2 separate regions of the Homo sapiens genome follow, and region 2 is linked to region 1. Evidence: fine-mapped expression QTL. A gene starts in region 1. The other region holds a variant in brackets. All regions are shown on one strand. Distances are between the middles of the regions.

Region 1 (8,347 bases):
TTGTTTGAGACAGAGTCTCCCTCTATCACCCAGGTTGGAGTACAGTGGCATGATCTCGATTCACTGCAACCTCCGCTTCCTGGGGTCAAGTGATCCTCCTTCCTCAGTCTCCCAAGTAGCTGGGACTAGAGACGTGCACCATCACGCCCAGCTGATTTTTGTATTTTTTGTAGAGACAGGGTTTCATCATGTTGCCCAGGCTGGTCTCAAACTCCTGGCCTCAAATGATCCGCCTGCCTCGGCCTCCCAAAAGTGCTGGGATTATAGACATGAGCCATGGCACCCAGCCTCATGTAATTTTAATTCAAATTTATATACATCTCATACAGCTTGCTATCTCCAAAATACTGTGCCTTATGGGGAACAAAGGGGGTGATACCTTTTCTTCTCATCATAACAGTCACAGCCAACACTCATATAACAAAAAGAATAGCAAGAGAAAAGCATAACAAATTTATTTAATCCAAGTTTTATGTGACATGGGAACCTTGCAAATGGAGATGCAAAGATGCAGGGAAGACTACCCATTTTTATACTTGGGTTCGATGAAGAATGAAAAACCCTGAAGAACTCTCATTGGTCAAAAAGGATATGACCTAATGAGAGCAGACTGTGTGGAGAAACTCAGCAAGGCCTGTCTGTTCAGATTCCTCTTGACCTGATTGTTCAGCATTCCTTCTTCCAGGGTATGGGGTAGGACCCTTTCTAGAATGGGAGTCTTAAGACGTACTATCAAACAATGCAAGTCAAAGAATTTATTTATGGGCAGGTCTTTCATGGAAAGGAAGAAGGTTAGAGTAATATTTTGGGGTTTGTGGCTGGCTTTGGGGAAAGGGGGTTGTGGTTTCTATAACTGCACCTGGAGAAAGAGGAATTATAGTTTCTATGGCTTGCATAGTGGGAGAATGAGGGGCAAGAGACGAGGAACAGAAGGTTAGAGACAGAAACTTTGCTTCTGAGGCCTTTATTCTGGGATATTTTCTTCTAAGCTCCAACAACCCTATCTATAACATGGAAATTAAAATACCTACTTTTCCAGGTTGCTAAGGTGATGAAATGAGAGAAATGAAGCTCAAGTGTAATTTCTGATAAATAATAGATAGCAAATTTTAAAGTTGGTGTCACCTGTCCCATAAACACTTATGGTATGTGTCCTCCTACCTCCAAATATCCATGGTGGGAGACAGGAGAGCAGGGCAGGATAAGACTGCAATGCTCCATTAACTCCAAGCCAATTTAGGACTGTTTCTGCTGACTCTACTTTCATGACTCACTTTCTTAAACTAGTGTCTTGCAAACCCTAAAGTTATATTGTTTGTATTCACTCTTTGATCCATTTACTATGATTGGGCTTCTGTCCCATCTAACTACTGAAAGCATATTTTTTGATATAACTTATATCTTCCTAATTACCAAATCGGTTTTCTTTTCTATTATTTAATATATATATAATATAGTTAACTTTTCTAAAACTGTTTCCTGCCTTGGTCTTTCACAGTTATGCACTGCACTACCCTACCCTGGTTCTCTTCTTCTTTGTTTTTTTAACTTATTATGGACCGCTTCATGAATTTGCATGTCATCCTTGTTCAGGGGCCATGCTAATCTTCTCTGTATCATTCCAATTGTTGTATATGTGCTGATGAAGTGAGCACAACCCCTGGTTCTCTTCTGATCTCCCAGGCCATTCCTCCTCTGGATTTCTATATGTAACTTCTAAGATATGACCTTACCCCTCTGCTTTTCTTTTTTAAAACATGTTGTCTTGATGGAATTTGATTATTATTTCTGTGACTGAAGGATCTCATGATGTGTATGTTTCTTGAGCATTTTTAGAACTATATTCAAGACTGTTTTTTCACAAATATATACTCAACACCAGTTTTGCAGTAAATCCTCATTTATCTTCATCCAGAGGTTCTTAGAAACTATAATTTTAAACAAAATAACATACAATAAAACCAATTTTACCACAGACAAATTGATATAAATCAATTAAGTTCCTGTGGCACATTTCTGGTCACAAAAACATCACCAAACTTCAAAATAAAGATGGAACCACTAGTAATAGTAAACATTGAAATAAATGTGAGCTATACATTAAGAAAGATGAATAACAACAAGTAAGATAATTATTTGTCCACTTATTCCAGTTCAGGATCATAGGTGGCATCTCAGGGTAAAAGGTGAGAACTAGCCCTTGACAGGACACCATTCCATCACAGGGTGCTCTCATACATGCCCACACTCACTTAGACTGGGACAGTTTAAACACACCAATTCACCTAACATCCACATCTTTCAGATGTGGGAGGAAAATGGAGTACCTGGAGAAAACCCATGCAGACGTGGGGAGAACATGCAAACTCCATACACACAGTGGCCTGGGCCAGTAGTTGATTTTATTTTTCTCAGCCATGTCATAATGAAACAATACTATTAAAGCATCTGCTCTACTTCATGCCTTCCCCATTTCTGCTAGTGATAACATTACCGAGCATTCCTGGTGCCAACATGCAGTCCCTTAGCAAAGCTGACTCTTAGTTTTTGAATATCTTAAGTGGTTTGGTAGCCATAAGTGCTGCTCACCATGTCTAGTTCTCTTTCCTTACAGGCACATGAAATAACAGTTATTCCCACCCTCTTCAAGTCAGGCATACCTCGTGCCTTGCTTTGTCTAATGAAATGTAAGTGGTATGTCACTTCTTGGTAAAAGTATTTAAGAGCTGGGGCACAATTCTCAATGTTCTCTCTTCTCTTGCAATGGTAATTGTAGAAGACTATGTTGACTTTGAGGGATTGTAAAATCAAAGCAGCATGAATTGCTGAGTTCACACATGGAAGATAGTTACTTGGAAAGTCATGCAGACTTGTAGTAGACTTCCAATGAGCAAGAAATAAACACTTCTTATCTAAAACACTGTAATTTTCTGGCTTTTTAGTGTGTAATCTGGTTTATTCTGAATGATGAAAAGAGTCATGCTGCTATGATTCTAGTTAACACTGTCATTTCAGGATAATTGTTGATATTTTGGCATAAATATTCCCAGGCACACACTGTTGACTTAAATAGAATGAAACGTTTATGTACCAGTCACTGTTTTAAGCACTAGTAATATAGTTGTGAACAAAACCTTTAAAAATTCCTGCTCTCATGAATCTTACATTTTACTGGTGAAGACAGATGAAGAAGTGGATAAGTAGACACTATGTTGGTAGAAGATGATATGGAGAAGTGTAACACTGGAAAAATGATGGGATTAAGATTATGAATGAGACTAGATTAAGAGTTAAATTTTGGACAGGTTTTAATTGTATATTAAGGTCTGTATCAAAACCAAACTTTGGCTAAATGAGATTACCAAGTGTCAATTCATATTGAGCTAAAGCCAGATATCACTTTCACAAAGTTAACTTCTGAGATTAATTAAAAACCCAGAATTTTATTGAAAGATGTATTGTCAAATTGTATATTAATAGATTCCAGATGGTTTTACAAAGTTTGACGTTACAGTGTAGGACACATAAATTTTCAGTGTTGACAATTATTACTGGCAATGTGATGCAAATTTGTGGTATTAAAAAGATATTCAGGCCAGGAGAAGTGGCTCACACCTGTAATCCCAAAGCTTTGGGAGGCCAAGGCAAGAGGATCACTTGAGGTCAGGAGTTCCAGACCAGTCTGGGCAACACAGCGATACCATCTCTACCAAAAAAAAAAAAAAAAAAAAAAAACAAATTAAAAAATTAGCCTGGCATAGTGGTGTGTGACTGTAGTCCTAGGTACTCAGGAGACTGAGGCAGGAGGATTGCTTGAGCTCAGAAGTTCGAGGCTGCAGTGAGCTATGATTGCACCACTGCACTCCAGTCTGGGCAACCTAGTGAGACCCTGTCTCGGATAAATAAATAAATAAATAAATAAGGCTAGGTGTGGTGGCTCACACCTGTAATCCCAGCACTTTGGGAGACCGAGGCAGGCAGATCACTCACGATCAGGAGTTCAGAACCAGCCTGGCCAACATGGTGAAACCCTGTCTCTACTAAAAATACAAAAAAACTAGCCAGGCATGGTGTCAGGCGCCTGTAATCCCACCTACTCAGGAGGCTGAGACAGGAGAATCACTTGAACCCGGGAGGTGGAGGTTGCAGTGAGCCGAAATTGCGCCACTGTTCTCCAGCCTGGGCGACAGAGTGAGACTCTGTCTCAAAAAAAAAAAAAATTTTTTTAAATTAATAAATAGGTAGATGTATAGATAGATATTCACTTTCAACTGAAGTCTTTATCGGAGCAAGATTTTTTTTAAGGTAGATTATTCTAATATTCCCTTCTTTTCTTCATGTTCTTTACATTATTTTTATGCCTGTATGGCATACAAGACCGAAAAAACATGTGGATGATCAAAATGACCCCATTTGCTTTTACTATCACCATAGTTCTTCCTAAAGTCCTCATTGACTTCCAGGTTTTGGTTAATATCTTCAGGGACAACTCAGTGTCTCACTGTTTCTGCTTCTGAACCTAGGGATCCTGTCCTCTTGAACCCTGGAAGTTGTCTTGACCAGTCAGAGAACTGCGTTCCCCACCCCTTCCCCTTTGGAAACGTCACACTGTGGAGGAAAAGCAGCAACTAGGGAGCTGGTGAAGAAGGATGTCTCAGCAGTGTTTACTAGGCCTCCAACACTAGAGCCCATCCCCCAGCTCCGAAAAGCTTCCTGGAAATGTCCTTGTTATCACTTCCCCTCTCGGGCTGGGCGCTGGGAGCGGGCGGTCTCCTCCGCCCCCGGCTGTTCCGCCGAGGCTCGCTGGGTCGCTGGCGCCGCCGCGCAGCACGGCTCAGACCGAGGCGCACAGGCTCGCAGCTCCGCGGCGCCTAGCGCTCCGGTCCCCGCCGCGACGCGCCACCGTCCCTGCCGGCGCCTCCGCGCGCTTCGAAATGAGGGTCCTGGGTGGGCGCTGCGGGGCGCTGCTGGCGTGTCTCCTCCTAGTGCTTCCCGTCTCAGAGGCAAACTGTGAGTAATCAATAGCGTCTCTTCTCCCTTCCCCAGCATTGTCGACTGAACTGCGTGCCCTGGTTGGTAGGATTTTCTTCTCTAGAGCTGCAGCCTCCTAGAAAGTTTCCAGTAAGTACCGACAGACACCCAGCGGATGGAAACAGCCGTGGATAGAGCAGGCAGTGCAATGGTGGGGCAGGATCACTATTTGCACAGTTGCGAGAATGTATTGCCTACAGGACAGATCTAAGAACCTAGATGACACTAAGTATCAATGGAGGGATGAGAACACCTGCCCATTTCCCTTCAAAGCTGAAGTTCCCAGTCAGAGAACTAGGATGAGCAGATTCTAGCTTATGAGTAGGGAAGAAAAGGTAACACACTGTGTCTTCCCTTTGTCCAAGCGCCTGCCCCCAACCTGCACCCGTCTCCTGAAACCTGCCTCCCTTTTGCAATTTCTGGACTTTGAGCTTGGTTTGCTTGTCTCACATTAACGAAATGTTTTAGGATGACTGAGGGTTTGTATAGCAGTAGATATATGTCACTTTCTAACCCTGAAATCAAAAGGACTGTTAAATACTGTATTCTATTTCTCAGATCGTTTGTACTGAGGATTTTTTAACACTGCATGCCACTGATCTGAGGTGGTGGCATGAATTCTTTATCTTTGTGTTTCAGGTTCTTTATGTCCTTATGCCCGGATTCAAGACAGGATATTGAGTTTTCTCTGAAAAATATATAAGGAATACCAAGGCAATTAGTACATTTTAGTGGTCAGTTAATTTGTTTTCTAAAGTTGTAAGTGTGTTTATTGAATAAAAACGCCTTTTTGTTTGTTTGTTTGAGGGTGAGTCTCGCTCTGCTGCCCAGGCTGGACTGCAGTGGCTGGATCTCCGCTCAATGCAACCTCCGCCCCCCGGCTTCAAGTGATACTCATGCCTCAGCCTCCCGAGCAGCTGGGATTACAGGTGCCTGCTTCGACACCCGGCTATTTTTTTTTTTTTTTTGTATTTTTACTAGAGACGGGGTTTCACCATGTTGGCCAGGCTGGTCTCGAGCTCCTGACCTCCGGTGATCCATCCGCCTTGGCCTCCCAAAGTGCTGGGATTACAGGCGTGAGCCACCGCACCTGGCCAAAAATGACTTCTTGTTCTATGTTTTATTTTCAGGGATTGGAACAGGAGTGAGAACTCTGAATTACAAATAACTTTTAGGAGTCTAGAGCTCCAAAGTAAACTTTTTGAAGATGGAAATTTCTAGAAAATTATATATCAATTTGCTAACATTCCACTAGTTTCTATTAGTTAGTCATCAGGATGAATGCAGTACTTTAAAAATCTAACTTGGGACTAAAACATTATTTTTTGATCTTACATTAAACAGCTACAATTGCAAAACTTCAGCATTCAAACCCCTATCATTCAGCCAATTTGTAACTACATGCGCTTATTACCTAAATAGTTCATTAGGACAATTAAATATTTGCTTCATAGCTAGTGTTTTGGAGAGGAGAAAGGCAAAGTAGCTTGCCACACTTAACTCCTTGTCATCATAGAAATTTGCTAGGCTTTTTCTCTTTGTAGAGATTGTTACATTTTGACTGAATCTAGGCAGAGGTAAAAATTATATGGGTTTGTGTATGTGTATTATATATAAACATATGGGGAATTACACTTGTTATATATAACACTGATAGAGCAGATAAATTAATTCTTCAAGTATATCACATAAAGAATAGTTGGCCCCATAATGCTTTCAGTTAAAAGTTTTTGATTGCTTAATTGGATTAAAAGTCATCTGTGGTTTACTTATGAGGAAATTTGGATATAGATGTGATGTTTTTAATCCATATGATTTGATTTTACTTTATTTTTATTTATTTACTTTTTTGAGACGGTCTAGTTCTGTCACTAAGGCTGGAGTGCAGTGGCATGATCATAGCTCATGGCAACCTCCCCCTCCCGAGCTCATGGGATCCTCCCAGATCAGCACCTATCTAGCACCGCACCCAGCTAATTTATGTGTGTGTGTGTGTGTGTGTGTGTGTGTGTGTGTGTGTGTGTGGTTTTTATTTTGTTTTGTTTTTTTGGTAGAGTTGGTGTTTTGCCATATTGCCTAGGCTGGTCTTGAACTCCAGGGTTCAAGCGGCCTGCCTACTTTGGCTGCCCAAAGTGCTGGGATTACAGGTGTGAGCCACTGTGCCCAGCCTCCATATGATTTTAAATCTGAGATATAATTAGAGCTGTAAATATTTTATTTGTAATTCATTGTGTAGTTCTTTATTTAGAATTATTTATTTATTTATTTATTTATTTATTTATTTATTTATTTATTTAGAGATGGAGTCTTGCTCTGTTGCCCAGGCTGGAGTGCAGGAGTGCAGTGGCGTGATCCCAGCTCACTGCAACCTCTGCCTCCTGGGTTCAAGTGATCCCCCCACCTCAGCCTCCCAAGTAGCTGGTATTGCACCAGCTGGCATGCACCACCATACCCGGCTAATTTTTGTATTTTTAGTAGAGACAGGGTTTCACTATGTTGGCCAGGCTGGTCTTGAACTCCTGACCTCCAGTGATCTGCCCACCTCAGCCTCCCAAAGTGCTGGGATTACAGGAGTGAGCCACCTTATCCAGCCTATAATTCATTGTTTAGGCCATAGAAAGCTAAGGACGATTAAAAAAATATTTTTGTGATTAAAAAAAATCTTGCCCAGACCGGAGTGCAGTGGCTATTCACAGGCACTATTATAGGGCACTACAGCTTTGAACTCCTGGCCTCAAGGAATCCTCCCATCAGCCTTCTGAGTGTCTGGGACTGTAGGTATGCACCACCATGGCTGGCTTATAGTTGTGATTTAAAGAAAAACATTTACAAATCATAGCTTTATTTTAGAAAGAGTTATTAGAAATAATCTAATTCAACTTATTTGTTTTAAAAATAAAAAAAGAAATTGTTCAGAGATATTAACTAATTTTCCAGAATACATATATATACATACATATATGTATGAGAGAGAGAGATGAGAATCTCTATATTTAACATATATACTGTCACCCGGTCATAGCCGCTCATGCCTGTAATCCCAGCACTTTGGGAGGCTGAGGAGGAAGGATCGCGTGAAGCCAGGAGTTCAAGACCAGCCTGGGCAGCATAGTGGGACCCCGTCTTTACAAAAGAAATTAAAAAAAAAAATTAGCCGGATGTGTTGGTACACACTTGTAGGCCCAGCTACTCAGGGGTCTAAGGTGGGAAGATCACTTGAGCCCAGGAGGTTGAGGCTGCAGTGAGCATGATTATGCCACTGCACTCCAGCCTGGGTGATAGAGCGAGATCCTGTCTCCAAAAATAATAAAAATAA
Region 2 (8,347 bases), 130 kb after region 1:
TCATCCTGATACCAAAGCCTGGCAGAGACACAACAAAAAATGAGAATTTTAGACCAGCATCCCTGATGAACATCGATGTGAAAATCCTCAATAAAAATACTGGCAAACAAAATCCAGCAGCACATCAAAAAATTTATCCACCATGATCAAGTGGGCTTCATCCCTGGGATTCAAGGCTGGTTCAATGTATGCAAATCAATAAATGTAATCCATCACATAAACAGAACCAATGACAAAAACAACATGTTTATCTCAATAGATGCAGAAAAGGCCTTCAGCAAAATTCAGCAGCCCTTCATGCTAAAAACTCTCAATAAACCAGGTATCGATGGAATGTATCTCAAAATAATAGCAGCCAATTATGACAAACCCACAGCCAATATCATACTGAATGGGCAAAAACTGGAAGCATTCCCTTTGAAAACCAGCACAAGACAAGGATGCCTTCTGCCACCTCTTCTATTCAACATATTGTTGGAAGTTCTCGCCAGGGCAATCAGGCAAGATAAATAAATAAAGGATATTCAATTAGGAAAAGAGGAAGTCAAATTGTCCCTGTTTGCAGACGACATGATTGTATATTTAGAAAACCCCATTGTCTCAGCCCAAAATCTCTTTAAGCTGATAAGCAACTTCAGCAAAGTCTCAGGATACAAAATCAATGTGCAAAAATCACAAGCATTCTTATACACCAATAACAGACAAACAGAGAGCCAAATCATGAGTGAACTCCCATTCACAATTGCTTCAAAGAGAATAAAATACCTAGGAATCCAACTTACAAGGTATGTGAAGGACCTCCTCAAGGAGAACTACAAACCTCCGCTCATTGAAATAAAAGAGGACACAAACAAATGGAAGAACATTCCATGTTCATGGATAGGAAGAATCAATGTCGTGAAAATGGCCATACTGCCCAAGGTAATTTATAGATTCAATGCCATCCCCATCAAGGTACCAATGACTTTCTTCACAGAATTAGAAAAAACTACTTTAAAGTTCATATCAAACCAAAAAGGAACCACATTGCCAAGACAATCCGAAGCAAAAAGAACAAAGCTGGAAGCATCACACTACCTGACTTCAAACTATACTACAAGGCTACAGTAACCAAAACAGCATGGTCCTGGTACCAAAACAGAGATATAGATCAATGGAACAGAACCGAGGCCTCAGAAATAACACCACACAGCTACAACCATCTGATCTTTGACAAACCTGATGAAAACAAGAAATGGGCAAAGGAGTCCCTATTCAATAAATGGTGCTGGGAAAACTGGCTAGCCATATGTAGAAAGCTGAAACCAGATCCCTTCCTTACACCTTATACAAAAATTAGTTCAAGATTGATTAAAGACTTAAATGTTAGACCTAAAACCCTAAACACTGTAGAAGAAAACCTAGGCAATACCATTCAGGACATAGGCATGGGCAAGGACTTCATGTCTAAAACACCAAAAGCAATGACAACAAAAGCCAAAATTGACAAATGGGATCTAATTAAACTAAAGAGCTTCTGCACAGCAAATGAAACTCCCATCAGAGTGAACAGGTAACCTACAGAATGGGAGAAAATTTTTGCAATCTACCCATCTGACAAAGGGCTAATATCCAGAATCTACAAAGAACTTCAACAAATTTACAAGAAAAAAACAAACAACCCCATCAAAAAGTGGGCAAAGGATATGAACAGACACTTCTCAAAAAAAAGACATTTATGCAGCCAACAGACACATGATCAAATGCTCATCATCACTGGCCATCAGAGAAATGCAAATCAAAACCACAGTGAGATACCATCTCACATCAGTTAAAATGGCGATCATTAAAAAGTCAGGAAACAACAGATGCTGGAGAGAATGTGGAGTAATAGGAACACTTTTACACTGTTGGTGGGAGTGTAAATTAGTTCAACCATTGTGGAAGACAGTGTGGCGATTCCTCTAGGATCTAGAACCAGAAATACCGTTTGACTCAGTGATCCCATTACTGGGTATATACCCAAAGATTATAAATCATGCTGCTATAAAGACACATGCACACGTATGTTTATTGTGGCCCTATTCACAATAGCAAAGACTTGGAACCAACCCAAATGTCCATCAGTGATAGACTAGATTAAGAAAATGTGGCATATATACACCATAGAATACTATGAAGCCATAAAAAATGATGAATTCATGTCCTTTGTAGGGGTATGGATGAAGCTGGAAACCATCATTCTCAGCAAACTATCACAAGGACAGAAAAGCAAACACCACATGTTCTCACTCATAGGTGGGAACTGAACAATGAGAACACTTGGACAGTGTGGGGAACATCACACACGGGGGACTGTCGTGGGGTTGGGAGCTGGGGGAGGGATAGTATTGGGAGAAATACCTAATGCAAATGATGAGTTAATGAGCACAGCAAACCAACATGGCACATGTATACCTATGTAACAAACCTGCACGTTGTGCACATGTACCCTGGAACTTAAAATATAATAATAATAATAACAATAAAAAGAACAAAAACATCGAATTCCAGCATACTGAACTGAAATAGATTTTAATTAGGGAACACAATCATGAACGTATAGTCAGTGACAGATGCATGGTGTTTGGGAATTTGTGTATATGGTCCAAATTCACCAATTAAAGTAGAAATAATAACTTTGTGATATGGATCATAATTAAATTTTATATTATTTTCACTAATCTATATGATGTCTTAATTCATCTGAACAGTTTAAAATGTGTATTTTTTGTGATTTTCCATAAGGTAGTAATTTTTCTACTGTTTATTCTTAAGTAGTAATCTCTGATTCAAAGCTTCAATGAGACAGAGTCATTTTAATTTCTGTTTTTTGTCAAGGACAATCAAGAACTCTTCTCCACTTTATATGTGTGGCTTAAGTTATAACCAGGTAGGATTATTTTTAAATAAAATAATTACAATGGAGTGACAGGTCATTTGGTATATTCTGCTGTGTGTTGCCTAATTGCATTTAATTCATTGTAGAGACAAGAACGCTTAAGCTTGTTTGAAATTTATCACATGGATCCAGGTGAAGGCTCATAACTTCCTGCAGAGAACATTTCTGCACATTCTGAGAAACTAGACAGGGCATGACATGGGACAATGTGCACATGTGATATGTCCTTCACTCTTCATGAATCCCTTTCATTAGCACCATGGGCTTGATGGGAAGGAACTTCTCAGAGAGAAAGAAGTAAAGCTGAAGCAGCTGACGCAGTAGACCAAGCACTGGCTTAGAAACAGAGTTGTTCATTGACACACTGAGAGAAAGAGCTAACACAGATGACAGCTTAAGATGGTATAGCAGTGTGGAAATGACCTGGGCTCTGGTGACAAAGATCTAGTTTTCCCTTCCAGATGATTAGCTGTGAGTGAGCTATTATTCTTTAAGTTTCAGCTTTGGAATATTTAAAATAGGAATAATATCCACATCAAAGTATCAATGTGACATGTAAATGAGCTATGGCATGTAGAGATTTAAATACAGGGCTTGATATATAATAGGTATTAGGTAAAAAAGTTACCTTTTAAATAGTAATAATATTATATTTAATCATAATAGTAAAAACACTCTCTTAAATTATTTTAACCAGTAAAACTCCCAATGGCCAAGTTAACATTGTACTCCTCAATAAATGGTGTAATTGTTAATTATTTTTTAAAATGTCACATTCAGTTTAAACTCTTTCTATTCTCAAAGACAAATACACTCTTGGCTCAGGAAATGCCTCTGTGTCAGATAGGGTTTTTCTCACTTTTTTCTCCAAGGTCAAATAATAAGGCTCTCTTTGCAGATACTCCCTGTAGCCTGAACTTGGGTGGCTATGTACAATACCGAGTGCCATACCTTGAGCCAAACCATGCACCTTTTCTTTTAAAGGAGAAGGAAACTTCCGAAAGTGGTAGGACTTGGCAGTCATTTGTATACTGTATAATTCTACTAATTTTTATCAGTATCATTACACTTTCTATCAATAAAATGAGTCAACCATATTTACTTTTATTCCACACAAATGGGACTAGAAATAATCTGGCTTATCACTATAAAGAGTTTTGTAATCTTTAGAGTTATGTAGTAATCTTTCTTTTCTATTAAAGTTTATTGAAATACATTTCTTTTACATAAAACTTTATTTTCAAATTCTTAAAAAGGTTTTGAAAAGTTACTATATTAAATGAAAGGAAATCATGAATTGAAACAGAAGAGTTAGATTGAGAGCTCTGGTTAAGTGCCATAAAGCAGAGATGTGTGTGCAGAGACAAAAATAAAACAGACGTGAAGGAAGAAACAGAGCAGCCATGAGGCTCCAGTGGCCTGGAGAGACAGAGAGATGATTTGGTTTCAGTTCTTCAAGGGGGATTGGCTGCTCATATTGCTCTTTGTTTGTATGACATAATCTTTGTCTTAGGTTGGGTTCCCCAATCTAAGGAAACGCTAAACAAGGCATCTGAAAGATACTCTTGGCCGGGTGTGGTGGCTCACGCCTGTAATCCCAGCACTTTGGGAGGCCAAGGCGGGCCGATCACGAGGTCAGGAGATAGAGATCATCCTGGCTAACACGGTGAAACCCCGTCTCTACTAAAAATAAAAAAAAATTAGCCGGGCGTGGTGGCGGGCCCTGTGGTCCCAGCTACTCGGGAGGCTGAGGCAGGAGAATGGCGTGAACCCAGCAGGCAGAGCTTGCAGTGAGCCGAGATCACTCCACTGCACTCCAGCCTGGGTGACAGAGCGAAACTCCGTCTCAAAAAAAAAAAAAAAGAAAAAAAGAAAGTTACTCTTTGTGTTAGATCAGTTTCTTCAAAATAAGGAGATATTAGGCTAGGGATTCATATGCAAGTAATTTATTAAAGAAGTGTTCCGGGTTAAATTGCCAAGGGAATGAGGGAAGGAGGGGAGGGAAGCTAAGAAGCCAGGGTACCACTTCAAGTAGGGGTGATGCCAGTCTGATTCAGCAGGGAATTTTGGAATGTAAGTTACAAGGCACTGTTTGTCCTGACAAAGGCAAGGGAACTGGGCTTTCATACTCCCACACCAATGAGTCATTAGCTTGTGACCATCTTGGGAGGCATGGTAGTTGCAAATTCCAAGCATTTC[C/T]TGTTCTCTGCTTATGCTGGCAGAGATGCTTCACTAGCTCAAGGCCCTTCTTCAAAGAGGATGGCTGGAGTGGCATCCAGAACTGTGGCAGAATAAATTTTTTTTATGCCGCGAAGTTTGTGGTAATGTGTTACAGTCGCCATGGGAATCACACAGCGACCATGCCTTTTTATTAAAGAATCAGCAGGCAAAAAACTGCTTTCTCAAATTGCTCACAACTTTCTAAATGCTTCATCTCAAATTCTATACCAAATTCCATCATGATTTTTAGATCTTTTTTTAAATATTAATAAATTTTTAGAACGTGTCATCCTTGCACAGGGGCCACACTAATCTCTGTATCATTCTAATTTTAGTATATGCACTGCCAAGGCAAACACTAAATCATTCTTTGAGTAGCACTATACACTTATATCTACAGAATGCATACCCTTTTTTTGTGTAAACTATCTCAAATGAGTTTCTGTACTTGCAGTCAAAAGAATATTGACTAAGATTGCTTCCATTCTTCCTTCTCCCTAGAAAACAGACTTGTATTTATGAAGCTGACCAGTGCTCCTTCCTTGATGTTGCCTGTAGCTAGATCTTCTGGTTGTCCATCATATCTTCATGAGGGTTAAAAATTTAGGACACTTTCATTTGTAGCCCTATCATAAGCAACTTCCAAGACACTCGTGTTGAACCACATGTAATAATGGTGACTAAATTCAATTTTTCCCGGATTGGCAGGCAATTAAATAATGTGTAGACTGGTCTTAATCGTGGACCTATCTCTTTTCATTATTAAGTCTTTTAAGAGTGTCAAAATTTGGCTAGGCTTCTACCTGTTTTAATATGTCTATTTACTGAGTTTGTTTTGTTTTCCATAATAGAAACTCATAACCAAAAAAAGTGCATATCTAATCTTTAGATTGGATAATCTTCATTTCTACTCAATACATTTTTTCTTTCTTCATTAAAATATTTACTTATTAGTTCTTTTTCTCTCATATACAAATATCTTTCTTTCCTACTAAAGGTCATGAGAGAAAAGTTATTTTATATGACCATTATAAACTCATGAACATGCAGGAAGTCACTGTATTAAATGGAAGAAAGTTATAAAATTAGTGATAATTTAAGACCAAAATTTAGACTGATAGTTACGTTTAGGCTGATTTTATATTTGTTGATAACTTTTTATGTTTCATCTAATAAGAAATTTGTGGTGAGTGTTCAATAAAAAAGGGAAAGAAGGAAAGTAAATTAGGATTTTGTCTCATAAAATTTGTTGGTGTATTTAAATCTTACATGCTGAGATAATATTTTGAAAGGCATTTGGCATTTCTTGAAACAATACATAAAGATATGAGAGTTGAAATGATATTTCTCTCTCTAAAACTATCAGTTGAAGGTAGAAAATTCATTAGCTCATCTGATACTTTCTAAGGTGAAAGAAGTCATTAATAGAATTATGCTTCCCTGTAGTTCTTGCTATATTTAAATGTTGAAAAGGTTTTATTTCTGGAAAACAATTTAAGGGCTTTACAATATAAGAACTTTTGTATTTAAATCCAGAATTACTCTTTTATCAAATAGAGCTTTTGATTTTCATGTTCTGACTGGAAGAAAGATTTTAATTTATAAGATATGAATCCATTAAATAATTTCATCATGATTACGATTTGAATGATTACACCCACCCTCAGTATTAGAGATGATACTAAAAATTAAGTAGAAGGGAGTTGGACCTCATTTGATTTTGTACTCTTGAAGACAGATGAAATTATCTAAACGAGAAAAGTATGATCTTGTGCTGTGTGTTTAACGTTTCCAATTTAAATTGCTTTGACTTCCCCTGTATCTGCACTTATATTTGTCCATTTATGCACACAGCTTTTTTTAGTTGCATTAAAAAGGCACTACAGTTATAAAATATCATTTTAACTGTAACTTGTGATTTTGGAAAAAGTTATATAAATAACACAACTTCGAACTTTTGATAGATCTTCTATATGAAATATCCAGAATATTAAACAGGAAATAAATATTATTTGCTCCCTGTGGTTTTATCAGCTAGATTGACTTGGTTCTGACTTCAAACACACACTGCCTGGGTCCTCTGGTAAATAAAAGTGCTTGGGTTTACATCTATGGTATATTCCAGCTAACTCTTTTGCTAAGCTCTTTTTGGCAAGATGAAGGCTATCAGCATGAACCAAAACAAATAGCACAGTCTTTTTTTTTTTCCTTGACTTTTCATACCATTTCAAATAAGCTGATGTGTGCTGGATTGACCACACGATGGCAGTACATGAATGTCTTATAAATGAAAGCAAAGTAAAATGACTCTTCAGACTGCGCAATGACCGAAAGTATCCTCTTAAAACACGAATGTGGCCGGTCCCGGTGGCTCATGCCTGTAATCCCAGCAATTTGGGAGGCCGAAGCGGGCGGATCACGAGGCCGGGAGTTCGAAATCATCCTGGCCAACATGGTGAAACCCCCGTCTCTACTAAAAATACAAAAATTAGCGCCGAGTATGGTGGCGGGTGCTTGTAATCCGAGCTACTTGGGAGCCTGCGGCAGGAGAATTGCTTGAACTCAGGAGGAGGAGGTTTCCGTGAGCCTAGATCCTGCCACTGCACTCCAGCCTGGGTGACAGAGCAGGACTCCGTCTCGAAAAATAAATAAATAAATAAATAAATAAATAAACCCCACGAATGCGTCCCTATTCCATGGAACATCTTTCGTATTGAAAATATTGTCAATTTATGTCCTTAATATTGAGATTTTCCCTTTCACCACAGACTGATAGAATTGTTACTATTCAGTGAAAGCAGGTATATGTTAAAGACATTGCTTTGGCTTTATTTTAATTGAAAGAATGGCCAGGCTATATATAATTATATATTATAATATATATATATATTATATATAGCCAGGCTATATATAATTATATATTATAATCAGTAGGCATAAAGTAGCTATATAATATATATAGCCAGGCTATATATAATTATATATTATAATCAGTAGGCATAAAGTAGCATTAACCCCTCACTAACTTATACAGCTCTTGCAAAAATAATAATTTCTATAGTGTTTTTCCACTCATTATTAATGCTCAAGACATCCTTCAGAGGTTACTAATAAACTAAATAACTATTTTAATGATGAAAAATGTAACCTAGATATTAAAATTTCAAGACAAGTGGAAAATCATGGGAGTTATCTTTTAGAAGGGGA

Evidence for each region.
Region 2: its variant is fine-mapped to the expression of PROS1 in fibroblasts (GTEx, PIP above 0.99).

Annotation. Positions count from the first base shown.
Region 1 is chr3:93,970,337-93,978,683 of GRCh38, reverse strand. It overlaps PROS1 (protein S), which reads left to right and starts at 4,788. Exons shown (of 15, transcript NM_000313.4): 1 at 4,788-5,010. The coding sequence starts at 4,935. It also overlaps the pseudogene RNU6-511P. RefSeq lists a silencer at 6,845-7,139.
Region 2 is chr3:93,840,916-93,849,262 of GRCh38, reverse strand. It overlaps the pseudogene RNU6-488P. Among named protein-coding and RNA genes, the nearest start is that of PROS1, 130 kb to the left of the region's middle. The variant C/T (reference allele first, on the strand shown) is at 5,120.